7 separate regions of the Homo sapiens genome follow, and regions 1, 2, 4, 5, 6 and 7 are each linked to region 3. The links come from fine-mapping of genetic effects on plasma protein levels. A gene starts in region 3. Each other region holds a variant in brackets. All regions are shown on one strand. Distances are between the middles of the regions. Region 1 has its middle 170 kb from the start of LINC01734. Region 2 overlaps PPP1R16B (protein phosphatase 1 regulatory subunit 16B). Region 3 holds the start of LBP (lipopolysaccharide binding protein). Region 4 overlaps DHX35 (DEAH-box helicase 35). Region 5 overlaps LOC107985448 (a long non-coding RNA gene). Region 6 overlaps PPP1R16B (protein phosphatase 1 regulatory subunit 16B). Region 7 overlaps PPP1R16B (protein phosphatase 1 regulatory subunit 16B).

What was found. PIP is the posterior inclusion probability: the model's chance that the variant is causal. The UK Biobank Pharma Proteomics Project read protein levels with antibody pairs (Olink). The fine-mapping took linkage between variants from a reference panel, not from the people measured, so its PIPs are less certain.
Region 1: its variant is fine-mapped to the plasma level of the LBP protein (UK Biobank, PIP above 0.99).
Region 2: its variant is fine-mapped to the plasma level of the LBP protein (UK Biobank, PIP above 0.99).
Region 4: its variant is fine-mapped to the plasma level of the LBP protein (UK Biobank, PIP above 0.99).
Region 5: its variant is fine-mapped to the plasma level of the LBP protein (UK Biobank, PIP above 0.99).
Region 6: its variant is fine-mapped to the plasma level of the LBP protein (UK Biobank, PIP above 0.99).
Region 7: its variant is fine-mapped to the plasma level of the LBP protein (UK Biobank, PIP above 0.99).

The regions. Positions count from the first base shown.
Region 1 is chr20:39,392,680-39,396,967 of GRCh38, reverse strand. No RefSeq gene overlaps it. Among named protein-coding and RNA genes, the nearest start is that of LINC01734, 170 kb to the right of the region's middle. The variant A/T (reference allele first, on the strand shown) is at 1,676.
Region 2 is chr20:38,839,259-38,843,546 of GRCh38, reverse strand. All of the region lies in intron 2 of PPP1R16B (protein phosphatase 1 regulatory subunit 16B), which reads right to left. Among named protein-coding and RNA genes, the nearest start is that of PPP1R16B, 36 kb to the right of the region's middle. RefSeq lists an enhancer at 675-784. The variant A/G (reference allele first, on the strand shown) is at 2,076.
Region 3 is chr20:38,343,003-38,347,270 of GRCh38, reverse strand. LBP (lipopolysaccharide binding protein) reads right to left here and starts at 789. Exons shown (of 15, transcript NM_004139.5): 1 at 631-789. The coding sequence starts at 754. RefSeq lists an enhancer at 2,736-3,513.
Region 4 is chr20:38,980,788-38,985,075 of GRCh38, reverse strand. It overlaps DHX35 (DEAH-box helicase 35), which reads right to left. Exons shown (of 22, transcript NM_021931.4): 4 at 1,300-1,377. Among named protein-coding and RNA genes, the nearest start is that of DHX35, 21 kb to the right of the region's middle. The variant C/T (reference allele first, on the strand shown) is at 2,335.
Region 5 is chr20:39,172,717-39,177,004 of GRCh38, reverse strand. All of the region lies in intron 2 of LOC107985448 (a long non-coding RNA gene), which reads right to left. Among named protein-coding and RNA genes, the nearest start is that of LINC01734, 50 kb to the left of the region's middle. The variant C/T (reference allele first, on the strand shown) is at 1,993.
Region 6 is chr20:38,864,633-38,868,920 of GRCh38, reverse strand. All of the region lies in intron 2 of PPP1R16B (protein phosphatase 1 regulatory subunit 16B), which reads right to left. Among named protein-coding and RNA genes, the nearest start is that of FAM83D, 60 kb to the left of the region's middle. RefSeq lists enhancers at 2,161-2,230, 2,251-2,350. The variant C/T (reference allele first, on the strand shown) is at 2,300.
Region 7 is chr20:38,849,946-38,854,233 of GRCh38, reverse strand. The region is part of intron 2 of PPP1R16B (protein phosphatase 1 regulatory subunit 16B); the gene reads right to left. Among named protein-coding and RNA genes, the nearest start is that of PPP1R16B, 46 kb to the right of the region's middle. The variant T/C (reference allele first, on the strand shown) is at 2,363.

The DNA of each region.
Region 1 (4,288 bases), 1.0 Mb before region 3:
AGCTTATATTCTACTGAAGAAAACAAGCAAAATAAATGAGGGGGCATGGTAATAAATAAATACAATTATATCCAGTACCTTGAAAAAACCGTACAGGATGCTGAGATATCCTTTGGCTTGAGTGATCAGAGAAGGCCACCCTGGGGAGGACACATGACAGTTGAGAAGGAGATAGCCAGGAGGACAGATGAAGAGCATTCTGGTCCACAGTCAACAGAGACGTTCCCTGGAAGATGCTCCTCCAATTCCTCAATCCTCCAGTGATATACAAGATCAGAGTCTCTTCTGTTTTGTTGCTCAGCTTGAATCTGGTTTTCCCACTGACTCTGACTTGCACAACTATTCTAGCCTCCTCTTGGTATCAGTTTCTCCATCCGTACAATAAGGCTAATATTAGTTTTAACTTAAGAGAGCTGTTGCTGGAAGGATTAAGTGAGATAATGTTATATACTACTGGTTAACAAGAATGTTATTGCTTCTCACAGTGTAGAGAAGGGTAAGTGGACTCAAACTCCCCAAGTCATCTTCTGTACAAGCCCCTGTTTAGCACTCCCTCTATATCAGGCAACTGACCCCAAACACGGTCACCTAAGCAACCCCAAAAACAGTGGCCCCTGATACTGGCTTAAAATGCAGCTCTGGCTTCGTGTAGATTCTGACAGAATTGCCCTGTATATCCATGTGTCAACATGAAAGGGGTAAATATTTTTCCCATGTCTGTCTCCCAAAACAGAGGTTTGAATTTGATCAGGGAGCCAGAACAGCCCCCTGAACTCTCAGGATAAAGGCCTCATTCAAACCTCAGCTCATTCTCAGGTGAAGGCTTAGAGGAGAGATGCACAGCTGGGGAGGCCTCTCGCTAATTCCTGGCCAAGTGAAAGGGATCACTGGAACTCAACTGAAGTAGCTGTGGTGATCTTTTGTTTGAGCTCAAATAGCATTAAAGATTCCATTTCCTATTTACTTTGGTTCTTGGGTTTGGAAAATATCCCACCTCAGCCTCCACCTTCCTTTCCCCTCTGGCAGCAGCTGGCCTCTGTTTCTACCACACAAAGCTTGCTTTTCACCACTTACAGCCCGACCTTATGAAAGTGAGCTGGACACTAGCCCCCTCCCTCATCTGGCCATCTCAGAGGAAGCTGCCTTTGACCTTCCACTGTTATTATTGCTATTATCATCATTACTGTTATCATCGTCATCATCCTGTGCCCACCCTGCCGCCAGCTCCTCACTTCCCAGTGCCCCATTGTCCATGATGTCCAGAGTCCCTCCTCTGCTCAAGTCACTTCCGCTGCTGTAACCCCAAAGCCCTTCAGCTGTCCCCCAAGCTGCGTCCTACATCGCTTCTGCTGCTGCCTGTCCAGCTGCCTGTCCACCCACAGAACCCCCGCCTCTGATTCACTCTTTCCTTTCCTAACCTTTTCCCGCCCCATGTCCTGGCTTCATCCCACCAGTCTGTCAAAATGAACTTCCTACACTCTGGGTTCTTGAGCTCACATAGGAACTGGAATCCCCACCGCTGCTACTCCACGTCAAGCTCTTGGTGTCTTCATTGTTGAAATACTCCCTGCGTTGGTCTCGCCTCCTCCAAAGCTTCCTCCGTAAGGGCCACCAGAATGATCTCCTTGAAACCCCAAACTGGCCAAACTACTCCTCTGCTTAAAACACTTCAATG[A/T]CTCCTCACTGTTTAAGAAATGAAGAATAAATTCCTTAGCATGAAAATCCAGTTTTTCATACTTGCTTCCTACCTCACTCCAAACAAAATGTCCCAAATGCACCAACATTTTTTTTTTTTTTTTGTAAGAGATAGGGTTTCCCTCTGCTGCCCAAGCTGGAATGTAGTGGTGCATTCACAGCTTACTACAACCTTGAACTCCTGGGCTCAAGTGATCCTCTAACTTCAGCCTCCCAAACAGCTAATTTATTTATTTATTTATTTTATCGATGGGGTCTCACTTTGTTGCCCAGTCTGGTCTCTAACTCCTAGCTTCAAGTGACCTTCCTATCTTGGCCTCCCAAATCTCTGAGATTACCGGTGTAAGCCACCTCTCCCAGCCTGAAATACTTATTATTTATGCATACTATTCCTTTCTTGCCTCCTGCCTCTTGCCTGTATGCCTCCGCACATGCTGTTTCTTCTACCAGAGTTACCTTCATCTGGTCCTTTTCTGCCTGGAAAATTCCCTTTCATGCTTTAAAACCCAGTTCAGAGGCAACTCTTTACAGATAGACCTCCTTGATTGCACTAACCCAAGAGTCGGCAAACTTCCTGTAGAGGGCCAGAGAGTAAATATCTTACTTTCTGCCTTACAGGTGGTATACACTTTCTGCTGCAACTACTCAACCCTGGTGGTGGTGTGTGAAAGCAGCCATAGATGATATGTAAACTAATGAGCATGGCTGTGGTCCAATAAGATTTTCTGTATAGACACTGAAATTTGAATTTCATGTGATTTCCATGTATCATGAAATATGATTCTACTTTTGAGTATTTTTCAACAATATAAAATTTGGAAAACATTTTTAACTCATGACCCATACAAAACTAGTCTGAGAGTCACAGTTTCCTGATCCCCACAGAAGAGTCCCTCCTCCTCCTGCATATCTTCAGTGTACCCTGGTACCTTAAATGTGGCACTTTTGGCACTGGATTATCTAATGCCTCCTGAACATCTCCTTCTGCACCCACACAATGAGCCACTGAGAACAAGAACCATACTGCATTTGTCATCTCTGTGCACCTAGAACCCTAATGTTGGTCTAGAATATAGGAGGTGCATGCACAGTCAGTGTTTGTTGAATTAAGAAAATGACCTTGTGGGGGGAAGAGAAAGTGACAGTGACAAAATTTAGAATACAGTGTCATTCATAGTGTTTCCTTCTACTGACTCCTTGGACAGAGAACTTCTTGCAGAAATGTATCCTTTATTCAGATGACTTTATTTCCTTTTCCCGGTGTGATATGGGCCCAGGCTGATGTAAAATGCAAGTTATGAAAAAATTAACAATGCATTTGCTTTCTTGTTTTAACAGTTTATATCTGAGATGTGCAGAATTGGGTGGGAGGCCAGGGACAGTGTCATAAATCAGGCTCCCAAGAAGCCAACTCTGAGACAGACATTCACATGCAGCCAGTTACTGGGGCATGCTCTTGGGGTCAACATCTGTGAGGGGTGCAGGAAGAACACAAGGCAGGGGAGAAACAGAACTGGGATACAGTTGCAATAGAAGCCTTGCCAGTCCCATAAGGAGTTCTGAAGTTAGAATATCCCTTCAGAGCTGTTCCAAATTGGGATGAGGGGGCCAGACCATTATATCCTGCCCAGACCAGTCACTGAATGTGGGCTGTCCCAGAAAGAAGTGTGACCCTGGGCCAAGGGGCTTTCTTTGGCTGACAGAAATTTCCAGAGGACTCTCTTGAGGGCTGTCAACTGCCAGTGCCACCCAGCAGCTGTGAGAATGAGACATGGGAATCACAGCATTCCTAGAGCTGCACTGTCCATGTAGTCGATACCAGCCACACATGGCTATATATATTTAAATTAATTAAAATTCCCAATAAATTAACAAATCAGTTCTTTAGTTGCACCAGCCACATTTCAATCACTCAATAGCTGTGCATGTCTAGTGGCTACTATAGGAGACAGTGCAGATACAGAATATATCCATCATTCTATAAAGTTCTATTGGGCAGCTCTGCTCTAAAGAATGGGCAATGGTAGAAGTTTTCTAAAATAAACAATAATGGGCATGGGCCACTGAAAGGTCAATTTAGTTGGGAAAATTAAGCTATAATGCATAATGACAAGGACCCTTACTTGAGCAAACTGCAGATAATTGATTTATAATGATCACGACTTTCAACCCACCCATTCCTACTTGATCAGGCCTGCAGAGTCCAGTCTGCTATTACAGGAGAGAACACAGAAGTTAGCAGTGTACTGACAATCTAGCCATACTCAGTCGGTAGCTGGGCTGCATGAAGACAATATAGTTTGGGAGCTGCTTTGAACCTCCTACATAGGTGTCAAGCTCTTTTTACACACCATGCAAAATAATTAACATGGGAAGTGCCATTATTGGAAGGCTGTTTTTCTACACACAACATATAACTAATTTGACCCAACTGTCTTCCTCTATTGTGCTATTATTCACAAGTCAGTCTAGGACAGAAAGAACCTATGAGTTTGTTGATCCTTTGAACTCACATTCCATCTTTGCTGCCACTATATACTAGTGTGACTGGGAAAACCATGCCATTTCCCTATTTTCTCATTTGTAGTATGAA
Region 2 (4,288 bases), 500 kb before region 3:
TGGATCACTCACTCTGAAAAAAGCCACCTGCCATGCTGAGAGAACACTCGAGCTGTCCTATAGAGAGGGCCACATGGCAGGGAACTGAGGCCTCCTGCCAAGAGCCATGCCAGTGAGCCATCTTGGAAGTGGATTCTCCAGCCCCAGGTAAATCCTGAAGTGACTGCAACCTTATGAGATATCCTGAACGAGAACCACCCAGCTGAGCTGCTCTGGATCCCTGAGCCACAGAAATTGTGTGAGGCAGTATATGTTTATTGTTTTAAGCTGCTAAATTTTGAGTTCATCTGCTACGCAGAAGCAGATAGCCAACAGATAATGTGTTTATCATTCTGACTTAATGAATGAATAAATATTTAATGCCTCCGTTTAAATTTCGAATACAGTAAATATGGGTAGATAGAACCCAGCTAAACCAAAGCTTTTAGGAGTTCTCAGGTTTTAAGAATATAAAGGGCCTCTGAGACCAAAAAGTTTGAGGACCACTTCCCTAAACCCTTTACAAACTGCCCCTTTATCAAACTTTCCACAAATCACCCCATATAAAATCACCATTTGTTTCCTCCCAGGACGCTGCCTGACACAACAATACCAAAATATTATCAATGGTTGTTGCTGTTCAGGGGGAATATGGGTGATTTTATCTTCTTCTTAATGCTTCTTTTTTTCTGTACTTCTAAAAGTTTCTGTAACAATAACAGGGTTTTTTTTTTTTTAATAATTAGAAGAAAAGAAACTTCCCTTTTTAAAAGGACCAAAAGTGAAAGTCTGAGCTAGTTCCTGTAGATGAGCTGCTGGTTTAAGATGGTGGTGGCAAGGCCCAGGTGTCCAGCACTGTGCCTGGGGGTGGGGGAGGGGGTTGCAGGTGGCAGGGATGACTGAGCACCCCACCCACCTGACCCCAGTCAGAACAGCTCCTTCCTTTGTTTTACATATTGGGTTTCTGCATAATATCTCATTTAAAGAAAAGTTTCCACTGCTTAAAAAAGAGTTTGAAAACTTTTACAGTGAGAAAAATCATTAAATTTAATAAGAGTTAAATTTAGAGTACAGAAGAATCACTCAAACATTTTTTGAATGAGAATTTCCATAAAGAAAACCCTACACATTCTGAGAGAAAAACAGAAGTCTCTAACAACTTAACATACATTCAATGGTTTCAAGGGAGGCTGGGCTATTGTGGCCCTAGAAAGAAGTTATATCTGGGGCTAAAGAGTTTATCTTGGGGGCCCCAAATCAAAGGGCCCAAGATGCCAGCAGAAACACCAGGATGCCTAAGGCCAAAACAAACACAGATCAGTACAGCAACTGAGGGTTCTCTAGTTTTCTAGTGAAAACAAAAGCAGGAAGTACAGGACTGCCTGGTGGTTAAATACATGGGCTTCGGAGAAACTGATCTGGGTTTGAATCCTGGGATTGAGTCTGACACTTAAAACCTGTGAGACCTTGGCAGGTGACTTAGTCTCTCTGAGCTTCAAATTTCTCATCTGTAAAATGGGGGATGAGAATTCACACAGTGAAGCCATTTTCCAAGACAGTACAGCAGTTTCTTAAAAAGTTAAACATAATTTACCATATGACCCAACAATTCTATTCCTAGGTAATGACCCAAGAGAAATGAAAACATATATCCACACAAAGACTTGTACCCAAATTTGCCTTCCAGCATTCTTCATCCTACCCCAAAATAGAAATAATCCAAACGTTCACCTACTGGTGAATGGATAAACAAAATGCGGAATATCTATACAATGGAATACTACAGGGCAATGAAAAGGAATGAAGCCCTGATATATGATGTCACACCAAGGATGAACCTTGAAAGCAGTATTCTGAATGAAAGAAGCCAATCACAAAGATCATATACTGTATGATTCCATGTAAATAATATGTCCAGAAAAGGCAAATCTATACAGACAGAAAGTAGATTATAGTTGCCTGGGTCTGGGAACCAGGAGTCACTGCAAATGGGCATGAGGCTTCTTTTTGGGATGATGAAAAGGCTTTCTGTTTGTTTTTGAGATGGGGTCTTGCTCTGTCACCCAGGCTAGAGTGCAGTGGTTCAATCATGGCTC[A/G]CTGCAGATTTAACCTCCCGGATTCAAGCGATCCTCCTGCCTAAGCCTTCCAAGTAGCTGGGACCACAGGCAAGTGCCACCACGGCTGGCTTTTTTTTTTTTTTTTTTTTTTTTTTTTCAGTACAGACAGGCTCTCCAGGCTGGTCTAGAACTCCTGGGCTTAAGCGATCCTCTACCTTGGCCTCCCAAAGTGCTGGGATAACAAGTGTTAGCCACACCACTCAGCGATGGCAATGTTTTACAACTGGATTGTGGCTGATGGATGCACAATTCTGTAAATTTACTGAAAATCATTGAATAGTACACTTAAAGTGGGCAAATTTTATAATATGTAAACTGAACCCCAAGCTATTTTTTAAAAATGGGGTTTGACTCTCTAACCTCAGAGAGTTGCTGTGAAGATTAACCGAGATAACATATGTAAGGCAAGCTGCCTGGTACAAAGCACCTGATAAATAATAACAATGATGACAATCAGAATATGCTGTAATAATAGATTACGTAAATGTAGAATAGTGTAGAATAACAACAATTTATACCACTTACGTAGCTCTGACCATACCACTTCAACATTTATCAACTTAATTTAACCCCCCAACAACGTTATGAAGCGGGTACATCATCATCCTCATTTTTACCGATGGGGAGATGGAGGCACTGAGAAGTAAAGTAACTTTCCCAAGGATGCACAGCTAGTAAACGGTAGAGCTAGGATTTGAATCCTGGAGGACAAACTGCAGGGTCTGTGCTCCTAGCCATGACACTACACTGTCTCTCAGTAAACATCAGCTACGTATTGAGTTGCTACTTTAACCAGGGCCGGGAAAAGGCTCACAGATGGCTCCCCAGAGATCACGCTGGACTCAAAGCTGAGGGTTACAGGAGTTAGTCACAGGAAGAGTGTCCCAGACAGAGGGAATTGCATATACAAAGGTGTGGAGGTAAGATAACGCAGGGAATATGGGAGGATCTTGGTGGAGCTGGCGTCGCCTGGGGCAGAGGGTGATGGCAGTGAGAGCAGTGAGCATGGGGCTCAGGCAGGTCCAAGGGCAAGGACACTAGTCTAAAGGCAATATGGGACCAGAGGATGAAACTCAGTGAGTTCCTAGCCTGCCTTTCTCTGGAAACAACTCACATTCCCCAGGCAGGTGGGGGAGGTTGACTCAGAGGCTGCTGTGAGCTCAGGGGAGTGGGGGAGCTGCCACCCCACGCTCCCACGCCACTGTGAGCTAACACCCCGGCAGCCTCCCAAACACCAGCTCCACCAGCAAGAAGCAGCCGTTCCCAGCCTGCTGAAAGCAGCAGGCTCTGTAGTGCTGCCAGGAAGCTGAGCATAGCCCAGTGAGGTCAAGGGCTGACTGATGGCAGCCTCACACCCCTCATCCAAACCCAGGCAACTGTGGACCCTAAAACCAACCCACGAGCCTGCCACAGAGCACAGTATTCTGGCCCCTTCCCCTCACTTGGCTGCCCCATAGAGACAGGGGGACCAGCCCATGGGGTCTAGCACTTTTCTCATTCAAATTTAATACCTTCAGATCCATCTCTTTCATTTCATCACATCTGTCCTCGATAAACATTTGCACATGGAAATAAAACATTCACTGTGGCAAAAGCGAAGCTACTGGAAAAATCTGCATCAATAAGGAGCTAGTTAGAAAATTCTGGTAATCCATACTATGGAATACTACACAGCAGATAAAAATAATGGCACAGATCTGTACTGTACATGTTCTGGCATGAAAACGTCTCCAAGATATACCGTTGGATGGGAAAAAAAAAAAGAAAATTGCAGAATAATGTATCCAGGATACCATCACTTATGTAAAAACTTTTTAAAAAAGAAACCTGGCTCTATATTTCTCTTAAGTCCACAAGTGCATATGCAAATGAAAAAAATACCTGGAAAAGAAACATCAAACTAACAACAGTAGTGATGGATGGACAAAAAGAAGCAAAGGAGGGGAGGAAGGAGAGAGGGAGGAAGGGAGGGACAGAAAGGACTTTTTACTTTGTACACTTCTACGTTGATTGATTTTTACAAGAAGAATGTATCTGTGCATATTTAGGTTCTGAAAAACATTAAAGTCTGTAAAAAACAAAACAAAATAAAGTGCGTTATCACCGTGCTGGTACAGGTCTCAGGGTAACCTTTCAAAGAACTGTCACATCCAGGACCTTGTCTAAGTCTTGCCATACCCTCTTGAGGGCAA
Region 3 (4,268 bases):
TGCCTGGCCTGCCCATTCTTTAAAATTGAGGAATAATATACATAAAGTACCTAACGGGCACAAATTTTAAAGGTATTGCTAAATAATTTTTAATGTTTATACAGGAATGTGATCACCACCTGGATCAAGATATGGCAACTTCCAGCACCCCGGCAGACCTCCCTCATGCCCTTCAGGGTCTCTGCCTGCCTCTAGAGGTGACCACAATTCTGACTTCCAGTTCAGAGGCATGTGTTTCCAAACTTTACGCAGAATTTTCCCAGCTGAGTGGTTCCCATCATCAGAGGTGGTGGCTGGTTTAATTGCACACTCTCTCCTGGCTGCCCTCCCTTCCTCATCTCAGTACCGATTCCCTACAGTGTTTCCTGGAATCATTTCCCAAATCAACTACTTGCACGCAAAGCTGTGTTCTGTTGGCTGGTGGAGGACCTCACTACCACAAATAACATGCCCAGGGCACTCAGCTGGTGGGCAGTAAGGCCAGAATAGGAGCCAGAGCCACCTGACCCAGAAGGTGGCACTGCCCCAGGGAGAGGGTCCGGTCTGTGTCCCCACTCCCTGTCCCCACTGTACCCAGAGCAGCCTGGAGCGTGGGTTTGCCAAGTCCAGCCAGCAGATGTGGCTTCTTACCATACTGCAGTCCCTTGTCGGTGATCCTGGCGACCAAGCCGGGGTTGGCACCCAGAGCCTCTGGGGTGGACGTAAGCAGCAATGCCAGCAGTATGGACGGCAGGGCTCTGGCCAAGGCCCCCATCCTAGATTCCCAGTGCAGTGGGCCAGGACTGTCCCAGCTGTGGATTGGGCCCAGGTCCCTTAAGTAGCCAAGGCTCGATGGCTGGGGGCAGTTCCTGAGGCTGGATGGGTTCCTGGGAGCGGGAAGGGGAGGCACAGGGACTGGAACCTGCTTGCGACATCACTGAAGTCATAAGGTCATACTTAGAAGCCAGTTTTCACTGCCCAGATCAGTGGATGAGGAAGCCTGACTCCTATGATCATCCCTGTCCACCCTCCCCACAGAAAGACCCCATATTCATCACTGTTCATCTTGCCTCATCTCAGCCAGTCTCTTAAGAGCTCGGCTAGGAAGGCCTGGTTTAGCAGATGAGGAAACTGAGGTTCAAAAAAGCCACATAGCTCCCTTGAGATCTCACCCCCAGCAGAGGGCAGGGTTGAGAGTGAAGCTACATCTGGCACCAACCAAACTCTCTTTTTTAAAATATATTGGCTCGTTTATTTAAAAAATAAATGTTTCCCCCAATGGGAAAACAGTGTTTCTCAAACCTTGCTGGTGGTGAAATTTTCTGGAAGGCAATTGGCAAATGTTTAAACAGTTGCATGCCCTGTGACCCAGGAATTCAATTTCAGGGACTTGCCCTTAAATACATAATTGAGTCAGTGTGCCAGTAAATCACTGCTCCAAGATACCACTGCTATGCTGTGGGAAACAGGACAGGAGAAGTGAGACCCAACCTCATGTATCCACCAGAAGGGCATTGGTTAAATGAATTATGACATGCCCCTTAAAGTGAGGCTGCAGAAATAAAGGTATTTCTTGGCAAGGAAAGGGATGTCATGAGGCATCCGTTTCCGATGGCACCATAGAGTAAGGTTCTATTTTGGGGGGTTCAAAATAGGCTTCTATGTTCAACAATCTGGAAAATATTTAGCAAGGAGTCATGAGGCATTGTCTCTGGTTGTGGGGGTAGAATTATAAGTGTTAAAAAAGTTTTTGCTTGTTGATACGTACAATTTTTTTTTCTTTTTTCATTTTTTGAGACAAAGTCTACTCTGTTGCTCAAGCAGGAGTCCAGTGGCATGAACATCGCTCGCTGCAACCTCAACTTCCTGGGCTCAAGTGATCCTCCCACCACAGCCCCCTAAGTAGCTGGGACTACAGGTGTGAGCCACCATGTCCAGCTAATTTTTTGTATTTTAGTAGGGACGAGGTCTTGCTATGTTGCCCAGGCTGGTGTCGAACTCCTGAGCTCAAGTAAGCCTCCCGCTTGGCCTTCCAAAATACTGGGATTATAGACTTGGGCCACCATGCCCAGCCTCTAAAATTTTTATTTTCTTGGGGGTATGGTCCCGGGCATATATTCGCAGTAAGTAAAGATAGTAAAATTTCATTCTGGAAAACAAAATTTATAGTACAGACTGTGTTTAATTTTTAGAGTTTTGCCCCAGCCCTGCTTACATTTGTGAGTTCTGCTTTGCCCTCACCCCCAGGAAGCCTTCCCTGACCACTCCCATGCTTCTCTGGATTCTAGAAAGGGTCCCCTCTGAGGTCCCAGAACCCTTTGCGCTTTCCCCACCACAGCATTAACCACTCTGCTTTTTGATAATTGTGGTCCTTTAAAAATATGCCCACGAATTCTTTGATATTCCTTCCATCAAAAGGTAATGTTTCTGCCCCCTTCCCTTGAAATTGGGCAGGTTTTCATGATGGCCTCAACCAACTGAATGTGGTGGGATTAACAGGGTGACTCCCAATAGGTCACAAACAGCACTGGCAGGCACTGAGGTTAAGATCAGAATGTCCCACGTTAAGCACAGGGAACCCCACAGTCCAGGCCTCTCTGCTCCTCTGTACCGTGTTGCTCCTGTCACTGGGGCTGAGGTTTGTTGGGATCCTCATCCGTCCCTCCCCTCAGTCCCCACACCACCAGTCTGATGGCTCCTTGCAGGCACGGCTGAGTCTTCCATTTCCTGAGATCCTTGCAGCACCCAGCAGAAATTGGAAAGAAACTGATATTTATTGAGCACCTACTATGTGCAGGCGCTGTGCTGGTTAAGCTGCACGTCTCCTCTCATCCTTGCATCAGCAACCCCAGGTGGATATTTTAGTCTTGTCTTGAGATGAAGAAACTGAGGTTTGGCAGGGTGAAGTGATGTAGGCTGCAGTCACCCAGCAGGAATTTAAGTCCAGGTCTGCAGGATGCCATTCCAAAACTCTGGTCAGGGCAGGGTTCTCTTGGGAGGCAACAAGCTGAGCAGAGGCCTCAGGGTAAGGAGCCAGCCTTTGGGAGGCTTTGGAGCAGGAAAGGGCTCACAGGTGCATCCCCAGTGTGCCTAGGGGCCTTTGCTTCCTGGACCTCAGCCTGCCCAGGAGGGGAGGAGAGTGGGGGAGGACATTCTGGAGCATAAGGATCTTATGGGGACATAGATGTCACTCTTCCTCTGGCAGCAGTTTAAGGATGTCCCTGGCTGGGAGTCATTTGCAGGGGTGGGAATTTCCCACAGCAGCAATCTTTGGACCTTAGAGCTGCCACATGGCCCAGGCCTGGCCTCCACCCCTGCAGGTGCCCACTGCTGGCTAAGGTCCCTGCTGATGGCCCAGGACCCAGCAGAGGCCTCAGGGAGCAGCACGACCCCACTGCTGGTCAGAACCCCTGGGCCTTTCTCCTACCAGGCTGTCCATCCAATTCCACAAAAGCAACAGCTGCTACCACTCTGGCCACCACTCAGTCTTATTGCAGTGAAATAGGGACTCTTTTAACAAGGCTGTTTATTGTGTTCTTGTGCAGGAGAGGGCCCCCAGAAATGGCAGTGCATCAAATGATGGACAGGCGATCATAAAACTGTCCCTCTGACATGATAAGTGGCCACGAATGGCGCCAAGAGGGAGAGGAGTTCCCTAACAGATAGTTGACATCATCTGGAGCCAGCAAACCACAATTCCCTGGTAAGGTCGAGCAGAAGGGCAAATGTTGGAGTCTGACTTGTATATGACCTTTTTCTTGCGGCGACGGACCAGTAAGGGAAAATCACCCCAAGTGAGCATGCGCACAACCTTAGTAAACACACTGCGCATGCGGCCCCTCCCAAGTGCTGGCAGGCCATTGCGCATGCAGGGAGGGCGCAGCAGCCCACCGAAGGGAGGAATCAAGGAGGAGAAGAAACCCCAGAACCAAGCCAGTGTATAAAAGCCCCGAGCCAAAGGTTGAGCGGGGCACTTGATCTCTCAGTTGTACTTTGCTTCTTTCAATAAACCTTTGCCTCTGCTTTAAAACTTGCCTGCGTCTCTCAATTGAATTCTTTCCTCTGAGAAGACAAGGGCTGGGAGTGTTGCGGACTCGCCACCGATAATATTCTCACTACAAAAGTGTTACTGAAAAGATTTTGAAAAACCCAGAATTTGGAATCCATAGTGTCTAGAATACTGAGCAGCAAATAGTAGATAATTGCCAAAGGAATAAACAAACCTTATGTTTATCTTTATGGACTCTGGGGCCAGATGGCCTGGATTTGAATCCTGACTCCCCCACGGG
Region 4 (4,288 bases), 640 kb before region 3:
AAAGAATTCAAACATACTATCAACAAAAAACTTATGGTGGCTCAGACTTCTACACAGTGATCCTCAACGCCAAAAGGCAGTGAGCAAAGTCTGCAGTTTGCAGGGACAGTGTGAATCAAGAATTTTATATCAACAAAAACCACAACTGAACATTCTCAAGCATATTAAAAAAAAAAAAAAGCTGAATGATAAAATTCAGCCAATACAAGAAATAAAAGCAAAACAAGCAATTCAAGGTTAGCAAAACCATAGAAAATAACTAATGATGAGTAATGAATCCATTCAAGCTAGAATTAAGGTTAAACACCTGTGAGAATTATGATTAAGAACATGTATATTATAAATCTTGAAATGAAAATGACAGGACTGTATCTACAACAAATGGAGAAAGGGAAGGTGGAAAGAAGAATACATGTGCTAATTTCCTCTTCTTTCATAACAGGAAACTATAAGGCGTAATTTGAAATATAGGTAACATCTTGAATTTTTTTGTACTCTTTTTTCTTACTTTTCAAGCTTTAATAAATTATCTTGCGGTGAACATTTATCCAAAGTACAGTCGCTACTCCTATTTCACTAAAGTTTCCTATTTTGTTAAATTCAATAAAAAATAAATATTAAATATGATCTCATTTTTATAAAATTATTTCTATCCAGCCAGTCAACCATTCATCTTCATCTTTAGGAGAAGCTTGGAATGATGTTCACAAATGTTCACATTGTTTATGTTGGATGGTGAAATTTGGGGTTTTAAAAATATATTGTTTTTTTATTTCCTCAGCACTTTATTGTTTAAAACGTTCATAATGTGCAGGATCAATTTAACAAAAATATTCAAATCATAATTCTTTTAAAACAGAAGACCTGGCCAGGCACAGTGGCTCATGCCTGTAATCCCAGCATTTTGGGAGGCTGAGGCAGGCAGATCACAAGATCAGGAGTTTGAGAACAGCCTGGCCAACATGGTGAAACCCCGTCTCTACTAAAAATATAAAAAAATTAGCCAGGCGTAGTGGCACATGCCTGTAATCCCAGCTACTCGGGAGGCTGAGGCAGGAGAATTGCTTGAACCCAGGAGGCGGAGGTTGCAGTGAGTTGAGATAGCTCCATTGCACCCCAGCCTGGGCAACAGAGTGAGACTCTGTCTGAGGAAAAAAATAAAAATAAAAAAAACATAAAAACTGAAGACCTAAACTCTTAAGGAGCAACTTCTATTCATTTAAAGCCTTTAGGAAATGTAAACAAATCACAAATGTAGACAACACAGATAGAATCTTTCCAACACAAAAAGAAACTCACTGTAACAGCAGCCACTCTTCGAGGCTGGGTCACTCCTACCACTCTTCCTTCAGCTGTCCAGCCGGCTTCTGCAAGGTACTACAAACAAAATCACATCTAAGTATACATATGATACCACTTTTGCAGAGCAATCTCCCCCAAGATGCTCCCGTATTGTGTTAAAATCACTAAGAAAGGAAAAAGTACAGTTCTTGTCCCAGCAGAACTTTGGGAATTATTTTACAGATGGAGGATCTGAGGCTTGGTAATGTTAGGTGATTTACTTAAGTTCACATCAAAGCTGATCAACAGAAGAACTAAGGCGCAATTCCAGCATTCTGACACCCCAGTCCTGGAAAATCACCATGTACTACAGATGCCTCAGGGAACAAAAAATTATCCACAGGTCACTCAAAACAGTGCTAACTCTGTAGAACAAAGAATTTTTAAGCACATATAGAGATGGCTCAACATAAATATCAACCACACAACACATTTCAGCCATATTAAATAAAACAACTGGATTTTATATATATGACTATACACCATTAGATTAGTACACATATATAAAATTTGATTGAACAGGCACGGCGGCTCATGCCGGTAATCCCAGCACTTTGGGAGGCTGAGGTAGGCAGATCACTTGACGTCAAGACCAGCCTGGCCAACATGGTGAAACCCCGTCTCTACCAAAAATATAAAAACGTAGGTGGGTGTGGTGGCACATGCCTGTAATCGTGACTACTCAGGAGGCTGAGGCAGGAGAATCGCTTGAACCTGGGAGGTGGAGGTTGCAGTGAGCCAAGATCCTGCCACTGCACTCCAGCCTGGGTGACAGAGAGAGATTCTGTCTCAAAAAAAAAAAAAAAAAATTTGATTAAGTGTATTTATCTGAGTTACCTACTTATTTAATATCTATGTATTTATTTGATTATATGCACTTAAAATCCAATACGGATAACAGTGGTTATCAGTTACATGTTTTTCTAACATCTAATAGTTTTACAATGAACATGTATTACTTCTACAATAGAAAAAAGATTTTAAAAGTTACTG[C/T]GTGTACCTGCTCATGTGTTCAAAAGAAATAAAGGAAGGATAATATAGATACTAAGAAATGGTTGTCTACAGGGAATGGGTGGGAAAGGTGTAGAAAGAAGGGGAAATGGAGGGAGGGGAACAGGGATAAAGAGGGCGTGTCAATGCTCTCAATAGATCTTTTTGTGTAGCTCTGACTCTGAGAATCACAGCCATGCATGTTTCACATACTTTTTAAACACCCAGAAGACAAATAAAACCAACCAGGATGTGGAGGGAAACCTAAAGGAAATATAAACACTAACAGATGACCCTTTCTATACTACAAATGAATAACATAACCACACTGCAGGGGGTGGAGAAGAAAAGAACTTACCTAAGGAATGATGGAAAAATATATCTTGACTGTATGTTGTAAGGCTAAAGACAGAAAGAACTGTACATAAATGCTGTAATCTAGTTAGTAAATATCCAAACAAGGTTACAAGTTAGCAATTCTGAAACTATTTTAATGAATCCACAAATATACTGTAGATGATAAGGACTAAGCTTCTCATTGTTGCAGAGAAGTTATAAATAAAGAAAGGCTCAAAAGAGCCCTATGGTATTAGATTGGAATCAGAAGCATTTGCATAAACTCATGGTGTTTAAAATATAGATGGATAGACAGATACAGATAGCTAGATGTTTTTATAATGTATGGCTTAATATTCATACATATATTTCCTAAGTCTGCTCACTGAGACTCAGCAATGACATCTCGTAGCAATGAGCACTCTAGCATCCGGATCATGATTTCTTTTTTTTTTTTTTTTTTTTGAGACAGAGTCTCGCTCTGTTGCCCAGGCTGGAGTGCAATGGCGTGATCTCGGCTCACTGCAACCTCCGACTTCTGGGTTTAAGCAATTCTCCTGCCTCAGCCTCCCTAGTAGATGGGATTACAAGTATGCAACACCATGCCCGGCTAATTTTTTGTATTTTTAGTAGAGACCAGGTTTTGCCATGTTGGCCAGGCTGGTCTCAAACTCCTGACCTCAGGTGATCCACCCACTTTGGCCGCCCAAAGTGCTGGGATTACAGGTGTGAGCCACCACGCCCGGCCCCAGATCATGATTTCTAAACATCATTCTCCAATAAAAGGAACCAGGGCTTGTGTAGGAAAAAATATAAGACAAGCCTGAAACATCTTGTAGTACTAGAAAGTAAGGAAGCGGTCAAAAAAATGAAAGCTTTAGAAAGAAAACAGGAGCCAAAATGAAGGAGCTTCTAATGTTCAAAGATGAAACAATCTGAGCAACACAATAAATAATGACAGTATTGGGCTTTAACACATAGAAAAAAATAAGTATCTATGAATCCATATTGATACACGCAAATAATCTAAGAAATAAGTGAGGAAGAAAGCACAGTTCTTCCTTACAGAAAATTACATTTAATAAAGATAGAGGGAAAGAGGAGAAAAGAAAATCATCACTGCTACAGACAAGATCCACTGAGGGGGATACTAAACTTAGTAGGTGAGAGTTGGAAGAAAAGTAGACTATTTGCAGTGTGAAAATATGTCCCCCAAGATACATATCAACTAAAAAGGGAAAGACAGTAGTTTCACAGGCAAAAGCTGGAACCTTAACCAAGTGACCAAAGTTGCTATTACCAGTGACAAGACATATCAACATTATGAACCCTTGAAATGATGCACTAAGGATACAATATCATTTCTGTAGTATTCTTGCCAAAAATACATAAGCTCCTTCTAATCATGAGAAAACATGACATAAACCCAAACTGAGGAACATTCTACAAAGTAAATCCCATTAGTCTTTTAAAGTGTCAAGTTCATGAAAGATGAAGACATATTGAGGAATTCGCACAACCTAGAAAAGATTAGGGAGAAACAACAACTAAATGCAATGTAGGATCCTAGAACTAAAAAAGAACCTTAGTAAGAAAACTGATGAGATTTAAATAAGGCCTA
Region 5 (4,288 bases), 830 kb before region 3:
AGACTAGGGTGCACTCAGGGCACAAACATTAAGGAGGCACTCACTCTTAATGCTGCTTCTGAATTTGCACAAGCCTGAGAGTGAAGGCCTCCTTAAATTCTGCACCCTGGCTTGCCTTACCCTAGTCCCAGCCCTGTATCTGTGCCCCAAACCATTACCTATCCAGAGCTCTTCAACGTGCAAGAGGTTGTCATTCTGGTGGCCTTCCACTGGCTTCCACTCCTCTCAGCTGTATCTATTAAGCCTAGATAACCCAGGGCACAGCCAGGTCTGTCCCCTCTGCTCTGGGGCTGAAATCCCAGCATTCCCCATGCCCCAGCCCATCTCAGCCAGGACAGAGTGCTGGCTCAGCAATTCCTCCATCCAGGTGGCTTCCGCTGATCATGAGTTCACAAGGACTCTGAGTGGCCCTCAGGATGACAGCTCTTTTATCACTTGGTGTCACAGCATGAGCCAGGGAAGGAGGCAGATGATATGACTGTAAAGTCATGTTTCCAGAAATGCCAACCAGCCTTCTCTGACACCACACCTGGACCACCAGCTCCTTTGCCAACTTCCCCATTGTTTTATTATAATGAGCAACAAGCTCATTAATAACTCTCCCCCCACTTCCTGAGTCCCAGCCACAGGGGGAACCAGCAGGTGCAAGGGGCTCACAATTAGTTCTTCATAATGCATGGTTGGCAATAAACCCACTCTGAAGCTGGAACAACCAGGATCCAGCTCCGTGCAGTGTCTGCAGCCACTGGAGTAATTAATGGCAGAGCCATAGGATAGTGAGTTAACCCTTATGAAGCCATCAAGCCTAGGAATCTTGGGAAATTGGAAACCTCAAGAAAATAAAGCATTTTGCATGCACTAGAAGAAAATGGCCAACATCTGGTCTTAGTCTTCCTGCCTGTACCTCTGGTGTTACACCTGCACCACCATTACCACCTCTGTGAAGACACGCTGAATCTTTGTGCTCTGCCCTGTCCTCTCACCCCCGCATTTCCACTGGCAGCCCAGCTGGCTCAGATGAATGTAGGCATTGGGACCTTTATCGGAAAAAGGCAACCTGGGGCCCACGGGGAGATCATGAGGTTAGAAGTAAGTACTACAGGGGAAAATAAGTTCTTAAACTACAGCTGAGCAAAGGGGACCATCCAAGGGCACTAAGCAGGCGTGGAAATCATAAGTGTGTAATGAGCTCAATCTCCACAGTTGTGTGGTTTTCTCCAGCAAAGAATGATAAAGGTTACGTAGGACTGCCAAGAGTGTATCAGACAAAGGTCACAGGAGTGGTATACAACAATGAAGCCTAGATTGGGCATATTGGGGATTCAATCCAGGAAGGGCTGGTAGACTCAGAGTAGGGAAATAAATACCAATGGGGTTAGAGAAAGGTCAAAAAGGCAAGTCAACAAAAGTGAAAGAAAGGAGGAAGAAGGACAGCAGGGAAGGACCTCTTAGAACCTAAGATTTCAGAGGCCAAGTGTTCAAATATAATGACTAGATCCAAACCATGGTCATGGGCTTAGGTAGTTGTCAACAGGGCCATCCCATTGGATAACTCCAGGAATACCATTCACATAAAATTCAAAGGAGTTGTGCAACATGGTGGCTGATGGAGAGTAAGTGCCAGTCATTGGAGATGGGGCAGCCAAGCAACTGTAAAGCAAGGGCAAGGGAGGGGTGACCCTCAGGAGCACTGGAGATGCCCTGGATGATGGTGGGATGATTCAGGGTAGAGAGGAAGCCTGTGGTGTGGGAAAAATAGGACCTTGGCCCCAAGCAAGCCTAACCTCAAATCCAATTCCCCTATTACTGTGTGTCCCTGTAGCTATCTCTTAGCTCCTCTTGGTTTCTGGTGTCATGTTTTTATAATGGAATCAAGAGTACTTAACTTCAGGGTGGTAATGAGAATTTTTAAAGATGGTTTATGTTCAGGAGGATGCTATTCTGTGACTTCTTTGCAATCAGATCTGTTCCTCCCTCTTCCCTAACTCTCCT[C/T]TCTATCAAAGAGAGCCAACCTCTGACTTGGCTTCAAGATCAGCTGGCTTCCAGCAGGAGAGGGCCAATGGGAAGTCCTGTTGGGAGACTGGAAGGCAAGAGGAAGGAAAATTCTGGCTATTTTTCCATCATCTTCTTCCTCCCTCCCCAGGCAACATCTCTAGCAAGAGCAGAACCTCCTCGATGTTTTCAGCTCCTGTGGAACAGGACACTTGATATTTCAACTTCTGCCCCAAAGCCCTGATAACTACATCATTTCCCTTTGCCTCTCTAGCCCTGGAGATGGTAGTGGCTTCCCACTTTTGAATAAAGTCTGGATGGCCTCACCCTCTCCTACTAAGCTTCTCAACTTTTCCATCACCTGTGTAATCAACTCCATAATTAAATTCTCCCTTTTACTTAACTGCTACAAGTGCCTAGTGTCATGCTTGGCACACAGGGGAAACTTAAATAGCTTTCAGTTATTTTATGTTTAGGTTAACATTATTAACATTTAGTTTTCCAAGACCTTTGAGAACGTGGTAATCATTCCACCAAAGATTGAGACCAGGATGGGAACAAGATGGCATAACTACTCACATGTACTTCTAAGGACAGAGATGGCTGATGGACGATTACAGGGTATATTGTTTACTTAGGCCTCTAAATCTCACCTTCAAAATGGTGACTGAGTGCTTGTCTTTATATCCCAGGGCCTGACACAGGCCCTGGAACACAGCAATTCCTCAAAGTAATAGTTATTGGACTGACTTGAAATCTTTCTGGATGTGTAGTCAGAACAGCACTTATTTATGAGTCTGGAAAGCCCTGAGTTCAGGTTGCAGGGTCTCACCTGTGTGTGCACAGAAATTTTAGAAATCAGAAATAGATTAGGAGGGCCGAGATTAGAGCAAGATGAGTGAGGCACTTTTCTCAGGTACAGAACTTAAAAGTGCACCAAGAAAACTCAGCAATCAGAATACATATTATATGGCAACATTTTAAAATCATAATTAGTGCAAAAATCCATAATGAACAAAATATCAAAATTTGAATAAAGATAGGATTCACATTATGGATTTTTTTCTTTTTGCCTAAGGCTGTAGTACAGCTGAGCCCATGCTGACTAGAACTGAGTAGCTACTTTCTATAATTACTCCGCTAGTACTTCAGGAGCCTGATGTCCCTGGGGTTAAGATCCTAGTCCCCCCAAACACACACACTGCTATATATAGGCTCTGAAACAGGGACTGGGTCTGCCTTATTCCCTGTTGTAACTTCAGCTTCTAAAACTGTGCCTAGCACATAGTAGGTGCAAATAAACATGTTAAATGAATGAATGAATGAAAGAACAAATTGTCTCCTCTGTATTCTTGGGATTCCAATAGGATCACCAAGAAGGTATTCTAACAATGCACCTTTAAAAAAATAGTCTAAACTCACTAGGAATCAAAGAAATGTAAATTGAAACAACGAAGTGCAATTTTTCACTGTTAGAATTAGCAAAGGTTTAAGAGATTGACAATACGCTGGACTGATGTGGAAATCAAGAAAAGGACATTCCTATGCATTACTGCTAGGACTGAAAATTAATGCAGTGTTTCTGGACAGCAATTTGGCAATATGCAACAAAAGCCCTTGGAAAGTACATTTCTTTTGACGAGCAATCCTACTTCAAAGAATTATTCTAAGGAAATAATTAGGCAAGTGCCAGAAGATGTTTCTTCCAAGGAGTTTTATCACAATATTGTTTATAACAGCAAGAGCTTGCAAACAGCCTAAAGGTCCAAAAGTATTGGACTCATTAAGAAATACTAATAAATTGATGCTTCATATGATGGAATACTATGCAGCTATTTAAAATGATGATATGGCCCCCTATTTACTTAAAATAGAAGGATATTTATGATGTGTTAAATGAGATAAAAGATAAAGCAATTACTGTAATCACCAATTTTAAAGTATACATGGAGAATGTTTAGAAGGTTGAATATGAATGGTGGTTATCTCTAAGTAGCAGAATATCAGATAATTTTAATTTTTTTTGAGACAGGTCTTACTCTGTTACCCAGGTTAGAGTGCAGTGGCCCCATGATCACGGCTCACTGCAGCCTCAACGTCCCCAGGTTCTGGTGATCCTCCTGCCTCAGGCTCTGAGCAGCTGGGACTACAGGCATGCACCACCACACCCAGATGATTTTTCCTTTTTTTTGTAGAGACTGGGTTTTGTCATGTTGCCCGGGCTGGTCTCAAACTCCTCAGCTCAAGCAATTTGCTCACCTTGGTCTCCCAAAGTGCTGGGATTACAGGCGTGAGC
Region 6 (4,288 bases), 520 kb before region 3:
ACAGGTGATATTTTAATGATATATTTTACCTAATCCATATGTCCAAAATATTATAATTTTATCATGTAACCAGTATTTCATAATTCTGCCTCTTGACTGCAGTGCTGGTCACACAAATCTGCTCCTGCCATCAAAGATTTCACAGAGCCAAACACACACATCCATACACAAATGAATGCATATAAAACTGGCAAAATCTGGATCCAATTGGTGAACCGTATCAATGTCAATTTACTGGTTGTGATAACATATATTAGTTTTGCAAAATGTTACCATTTGGGAGGCTGAGGCGGGAGGATCACTTGAGGCCAGGAGTTCAAGACCAGCCTGACCAACATAGTGAAACCCCGTCTGTACTAAAAACAAAAACTAGCCAGGCGAGGTGGCATGTGCCTGTAATCCCAGCTACTCAGGAGGCTGAGGCAGAAGAATCACTTGAACCCAGGAGACAGAGATTGCAGTGAGCTGAGATCACGCCACTGCACTCCAGCCTGGGTGACAGAGTGAGACCCTGTCTCCAAAAAAAAAAAAAACTTACCATTTGGGTAAACTGGGTGTAGAACAGAAGGGATCTCTCTGTATTTTTTTTAACTGCATGTAAATCTATAATTATCTCAAAGTAAAAAGGCATGAGCTTAGCTCACAGGGGTGGGCCATGGGGTCCTGAGGTGAAACGCAGGAGTGGTGTGGGCATGCAGTTGTTCAGAGGGACTGTGCCCGGCGTGTACACTGTGCTGAGCAAACCAGAGTGAGCCTTTGCTCTGTGGAGCTCACAGTGATGCACAGTAACAAGAAAGCCCTGAAATAGATGGAAAACAGCCCAGGGGAGGAGCAGTAAGAAAAGGCAACCCATGCTATGAGGGTGCATAGTGCCCAGGCACGGCCTCAGCACACTCACAGGACTGCAATTTTAGGGGGAAACACCAACTGATAGAATCAAAGAATCACGGCCAGGTGTGGTGGCTCACACCTGTAATCCTGGCACTTAGGGAGGCCAAGATGGGCGGATCACCTGAGGTCGGGAGTTTGAGGCCAGCCTGGCCAACATGATGAAACCCCGTCTCTACTAAAAATACAAAAATTAGCTGGGCGTGGTGGCGGGCGCCTGTAATCCCAGCTACTCGGGAGGCTGAGGTAGGAGAATTGCTTGAACCCAGGAGGCGGAGGTTGCAGTGAGCCAAGTTCACACCATGGCACTCCAGCCTGGGCAACAGAGCAAGACTCCATCTCGGGGGGAAAAAAAAGAATCAAAGAATCACAAGAGCTGACAGCTAACACATTTTGGAAATGCTAACACATTTTGGACAACTAACATATTTTGGAAATATTCCTCTGTGCCAGGCACTGTGCTAAAGCAAGGCTTCATTTAGCTCTGGTACAACCCTTTTAAGTAGGTAGTGTATTATTATTCTATTTAACCAAAAGAAAAACTGAGGCACAGAGAGATTGAATGGTTTGCCCAAGTTCACCCAATAGGCAACAGAGCTAGGATTTGAGCCCAGATGGTCTCGCTCCAGATCCCAGCATCTGAACCATGGACCCTGGTGACTCCTGAGTTGGACCACACAGGAAGCTCATCTGTCCCTGGTGGATCTTTAACTATCCCCATCCCCCAGAATCACTCCCCACCTCGTCCCCATCAGCACCAGGCTGATGTTTGGACATGAATGGCTGGTGAGATCAAGGAGCCAAGACCACAGTGCCCTTTGGGGACATCGCTTTAACCATCACTGCAGAGGTGGACCTTAGGGTGACTCCAGCCTGGGTGTGTGTGGTTGGCGGGGGACAGGGGGTCTATCCACACAATGTAACATGATCCAGATGTAAAAGGAATAATGTACTGACACATGCTACAGCGTGGATGAACCCGAAAAACATTACGCCAAGTGAAAGAAGCCAGACACGAAAAGTCACATATTATATGAAATATCCAGAACAGATAAATCCATAGAGACAGAAAGTAGATTAGCGGCTGCCAGGGGCTAGGGGGAAGAGGAAACTGGGGAGTGACTGCTAATGAGTCCAGGGTTTCCTTTTGGGACAATGAAAATGTTCTGGAACTAAGCAGAGGTGATGACTGTACAGCTTTGTGAAGGTACTTAAATGCCACTAAATTGTACACTTTTAAATGGTTAATTTTGTGTTTTGTGAGTTTTACCTCAATTTAAAAGAAAACACCAGTACTTTGCACACTGCAGGGTGCCTCTGCTCCACAGTGCAGATTCCTGACATCACCAGACAGAGGCTGAGCTCCAGGCCCAGGAGACCCACCCTCCATCCCAGGCCATCTCCTGCATGG[C/T]GGGCTGTATCCCCTCCATGGGAAAAAGATGTGCCTTGCCTCACACCCCAGACATCCATGGTGTGAGAAAAAGCAAGCAGGCCTTCTTTGGGTTCGTTTCTGAAGGGCTAGCCACAAGAGTGCTGGCGAGATAACAGGCAGCTGCTACGGGACGCTGACCATGTGTCAACGCACCTTCCGGGGCATTCTGTGTCATCCACATTGCAAAGGAGGCTGTTACTGTGCCCCATTCTACAGATGAGGGAAAGAGACTCAGAGAAATCAAGTCAGTTGCTGAAGGTCATGCAGCAAGTCTGGGGTAGAACCCAGAGGTGCCCCTTCTTCCCGCTGCACAGACACTCAGCCCACAGAGGACAGCACACCCGGGATTTAGGAGCTATTCTGTTCCCCAGGGGCCCATTGCCTAAGTGATTTTCCTTCCTCTGAAACCAGAAGCAGAAATCAAACCTCTCGAATTTTTATTATTTATTTATTTATTTTTAATTTTTTTTTTCTCCGAGACAAGAGTCTCACTCTGTCGCCCAGGCTGGAGTGCAGGGGCATGATCTCACCTTACTGCAACCTCTCCTTCCAGGGTTCAAGCAATTCTCCTGCCCCAGCCTCCTGAGTAGCTGGGATTACTGGCACACGCCACCATGTCTGGCTAATTTTTGTATTTTTAGTAGAGACAGGGTTTCACCATGTTGGCCAGGCTGGTCTCGAACTCCTGACCTCATGATCCGCCCAACTCGGCCTCTCAAAGTGCTGGAATTACAGGTGTGAGGCATCGCCCCTGGCCACTTTTCAACTTTTTAAAGCCAAGGTGATGAGTGGTGCCCTCAAAACAGAGGCAGGCTCTGCAGGGGCCGCTGGGATTACACCAGAAGCAGGAGACCCGGAGATAGGAATCCGGCCCTGCCACCTACTGCCATGGGAACATTCAGTAAGTGACAACCCCTCGGCACCTCTGTCTCCTCATCTGTGAAGTGGAGCCCACCTGTGCAGGACGTGAGTGGAAGGTGTACCAGGTGACGCATCTAAAGAATGCAGCAGGCCGGGCGCGGCGGCTCACGCCTGTAATCCCAGTGCTTTAGGAGGCCGAGGCAGGCGGATCACAAAGGTCAGGAGATCGAGACCATCCTGGCTAACACGGTGAAACCCCATTTCTACTAAAAATACAAAAAAATTAGCCGGCCGTGGTGGCGGGCACCTGTAGTCCCAGCTACTCGGAAGGCTGAGGCAGGAGAATGGCGTGAACCTGGGAGGCGGAGCTCGCAGTGAGCCGAGATCGCGCCACTGCACTCCAGCCTGGGCGACAGAGTGAGACTCCGTCTCAAAAAAAAAAAAGAAAAAAAAAGAATGCAGCAGTGTACATGGCACAGGGTAGGTGCCCTGTGCAAGTCAGAGGTCTGTGTGCCAGGACACTGACCAATGGGCCCAAGGAGGCAGAGTATGAAGAGTGAAGCCTCTATTTCTCCTTCCAGTTCCCTCAACCGGGGCCCCAGGATCATCTAACACTTGGGCCTGGACGTGGGTAGAATTTGCCTCATACTCCAAACCAGAAACTCGGGCCATTCTGAATTCCAGCCTGGCTAAGGGGACAGAGCCCAAGAGACAGATAGCCCCAGAGAACCAGGGCCGAGGCCACCGGCATGATTCCAGGCCAACCCAGCCCATTTAATGGTGTTTTCCCAGCCAGAAGGAGGCCATGCTAATTAAGTGGAAACCGGCAGTCTGCAAATCGATTTCTGCAGCTCCAGCTCCAGGAGGGGCCAGGCACTCTCAAACTGGGTCAGAGACATGTTAGTCCCACAGTGTCACCCAGAAACACCCACTTCTTGTCTGCCTCTCAGAGCCTGGCTCTCTGCTGGTACCTAGGCCCTACACCCTGTGCACCCAAGTCCTGGCAGATCCCTCTGTGAGAGGTGGGGGACTCCGGTGGTCTTTCTGGGTGAATGAGGTCCTGTGACTCCCTCTGTTATACATGAAGTCCGACCTCTGGTTGCAGTG
Region 7 (4,288 bases), 510 kb before region 3:
GCATTCTCAACCCAAAGTCCGGGGTTCCCAGAGAGAGGCAGTGTTTGGTCCACCCCATACATCTCAGACATTCCAGGGACATCAATAGCCAATTACAGTGTTCGAGCAACATGATGTGCCCAGGGTTATCACATCGAGTTGCTAGAATTCGGATCTAAAGCAAAGCAAAGTCTAGAATGTGTGGTAGATTATAACAATGGCCCCCAATGAATCATGCCTTTCAGTACCCAAGCGCTTGTATAGACTCTTCCCACACTGACTCTGAGCTTGGCCACGTGATCCGTTTTAGCCAATGAGACATGAGCAAGCGCGATGCAGGCAAAGGCTGGATAAATACTTGTGCATTGGGGCTTACTTGCTTGGAACCCTGAGACCATCATGCTGGATAAAGGACCACAGGCAGAGAGAGGCCAGGTCATCCCAGCTGAGCCCCAGACACTGGCTGACCCAGCAGCTACCTGTAGCCTCATGAGTGAGCCCAGGCAGAACCAGCAGAAGAACTGCCCAGGGAAGACCAGCAGAAAGAGTGCCCAGTCAAGCCAAAGAATCATTGAGAAATAAGAAGTTGTTGTTTCAATCCACTAAGTGTTTCAAGAGTGGCTTGTAATGCAACAAAAGGCAAGTGATTACAGTCTAGCTCTTGACACTGATTCACCTGGAGGACTGCCGTTACTACTTTTGTGGTGCCCAGGAAATTTGGGGTCCTTAAGCCAAAAAGCCTGTGTCCTGAGCTTCTCTTGAAAGACTGAAAACCCTAACACCTCCATCAAGATTTGGGTTTCATTTAGCTTTTCCAGCATAACTGGCAGAGGTACCATTTCCCTCTCCCCTACTCAGCAGGTTTCTTGTATCTTCTTCTCTTAGTCTTCACCTCTGCTCTGCATGCAACTTCCTCAGCCTAACATGGTAGACAAAGGATGAGGGCAGTGGGACCAGCTCTGTTTGTTGGTACAAATATGGGATGGACATGTTGGAAAATGTAATACTCTGAGAAGATTCTGGAACATTCCTGTTTTTCAAACCCCAGTGTTCCTCCATGTGATGCTCCAGCTTTGGCGATTGTTGAGAGAAAGGCCTGAAGTCTGTGCGTACAAAGAGCCTCATGAATTTTGTTGACAGAAATACTGACCATTTTCTCACTCGATTAGAAAGGAAACAGTGGGGCCGGGCGCAATGGGTCATGCCTGTAATTCCAGCACTTTGGGAGACCGAGGGGAATGGATCACCTGAGGTCAGGAGTTTGAGACCAGCCTGGCCAACATGGTGAAACCGTCTCTACTAAAACTACAAAAATTAGCTGGGCGTGGTGGTTGGCACCTGTAATCCCAGCTACTCAGGAGACGGAGACAGGAAAATCACTTGAACCTGGGAGGCGGAGGTTGCAGTGAGCCGAGATCATGCCACTGCACTCCAGCCTGGGCAACAGAGCAAGACTTTATCCCCCCATGCTACCCCCACCCCCCGCAAAAAAAAAAAAAAAAAAAAAGGAAACAGTGGTCCCTAGAAGCCAAGCAAGAATCAATCATGCTAGCAATGCCTCATCTATCTTCTCAATGGGTTCACTACACTGAGAAATGTCAAAGATAGAAAATGTCTAGACTCCATTGAGCACCTGACAAGCCTCTCATACACCTCCTTATTAGCACCCTGGGGAAATGCTGGTTGAGTGTCATTGTGGTTTGATTTGGGGGAGGTTCCAAGGGAGTTCCAATTGGTTAAATATCCCCAAGATCCCTAGGATGGTATCACCTTGGTGATCGACCATGGTTGACCAGCCTACCAACAGCAGTTTCTTCTCCCAAGAGCAGTCTCATACTATCCAAGTTTATGAGGCTGCTGCATAAAAACACAATGCCAGGATCACAGGAGAATAATTGCCTTGCATGTCTGAAATTCAGTTAAGCACGGTCAACTCATTCTGTGCTTGTAGGCAGACCTGGCTGGGACGCCAAATTATAATCAGAAGGTTGTACATAATCATCATGTTTAATGATTACGCCAAGATCACCAAGATGGGTTGAAGTCCCCTTTTTCCATAATCAGATTGTCCTTAGCAATGGGATGGTAATCACCAAAGTTGTTGCTCACAGTGTCCTCTCCCTTGAACGATATTTAAATAGAATTGTTCATAAATGATCTCCTAGCCCCCTTTTTCTGGCATCTGTTCTTGACAAGGCCTTCCCCCCCCGCCGTCCCCGCGAGATACAGGGCCTTGCTCTGTCACCCAGGCTGGAGTGCAGTGGCACAATTGTGACTTACTGCAGCCTTGCCCACATGGGCTTAAGCAATTCTCCGGCCTCAGCCTCCCAAGCAGCTAGGACTACAGGCCCACACCACCATGCCTGGCTTTTGTTTTTGTTTT[T/C]GTTTTTGTTTTTGGTAGAGATACAGTCTCAATATGTTGCCCAGACTGGTTTCAAACTCTTGGTCTCAAGTGATCCTCCTGTCTTGGCCTCCCAAAGTGCTGGGATTACAGGTATGAGCCACCATGCCCAGCAAGGCCTTCTTTATAATAACACCATCCATTGTTAAGCATGTTAATACTATGCTCTCTTCACAATGACTTTGCTAGACTCTGAGCTCCAAGGTGGTCTGGCCCATTTTGTTTTGTTCACCACTGAACAACCAATGCCAGCCTGATGATGTCCAGACTATGTTCCATAAATGTCTGTGCATGAATTGCTACTCTGATCCATCACATTTTGTTGTAATTTAACCCTCAGAGAGAAATCGTCTTCTAAGTTTTGTAGGAAAGATGGTTTTTTTTTTTTTAAGATGGAGTCTCACTCTGTCACCCAGGCTGGAGTGCAATGGTGCAATCTCAACTCACTGCAACCTCCACCTCCTGTATTCAAGCAATTCTCCTGCCTCAGCCTCCTGAGTAGCTGGGATTACAGGCATGCACCACCATGCCCAGCTAATTTTTGTATTTTTAGTAGAGACTAGGTTTCACCATGTTGGCCAGGCTGGTCTCGAACTCCTGACCTCTGGTGATCCACCCACCTTGGCCTCCCAAAGTGCTGGGATTACAGGCGTGAGCCACTATGCCCAGCCAGCTTTTTTTTTTTTTAATTGTTTTTTAATTGTCGAGACTCCTGCTACTGTTCCCACATACCAACTGCAAATAACAATGTAGTTAAGTTCATTTCAGTTGCACAACTATTCCCAGTAGTTGACTTTGATACATTAATCTGGAAAAGGTCTCCGGGGGTGTGGCCCCAGGCAGCATCTCTGCCCATGACCTATTCAACAATTTTTTTTTTTTTTTTGAGATGGAGTCTTGTTCTATTGCCCAGGCTGGAGTGCAGTGGCATGATCTCGGCTCACTGCAACCTCCACCTCCCGTGTTCAAGCAATTCTTTTGCCTCAGCCTCCCGAGTACCTGGGACTACAGGTGCCCACCACCACACCTGGTTATTTTTTGTATTTTTTAGTAGAGACAGGGTTTCACCATGTTGGCCAGGCTGGTCTCGAACTCCTGACCTCAGGTGATCTGCCCACCTCGGCCTCCCAAAGTGCTGCGATTAACAGGCGTGAGCACCACGCTGGGCCCTATTCAACATTTTTATCAGGGATTTGGATAATGGCCTATGACTGTGTTTCTAAGTCAGCAGCCTCTAGCTTAGCCACAGTTGACTACATTATTTCTAACTAAATACAATAAAAAATTTAGCAGCTATTGTATTGGACAGCACATTTCCATCATCAGAAAAAAATTCTATTGCACAATTCTGGTCTAGAAGGCAAATCCTTATTGCAATTATGAATGATATGGAGTAGAAACTGCCGGTGAATATTTCATTTGAGGTGAATATATTTAATTATGGCCTGACAAGCATCCATTCTCCCTCCTTCTGGAAATATCATCCCAATATTTTTGGGGGAGTGGGTAGGTACAACATAATACCAAGTGTCAGTCCATGTGTTTGGGAGAAGCAGACTCCAGGAGTGGGCATATGGCTCCAACCAGACCAATCATAGCATTGCTTCCCTTATCTAGCCATTACAATTGACTCAGGAATCGACCTCATAGCCAATGAGGTTCCATTCTGGGACTTGTTGAGCCTGGGACACTTCTGGGAAAATAAATTATTCTTACTGAGGTTGCCAAAAGGATTTAGGATATATATTTCAAGCTGCTGATAGTCGTCTTCTCAGAGACATTTCTTGGTAGTCTCATGCATCCACAAGTGCCTGAAGCTGTGCTATCTTTGAACTCTCCACTACGTGAACACTGTTTTGTTAACCTTGTTAGCTTGAGTTTTTGTCACTGGTGACACAAAAGTCCTAA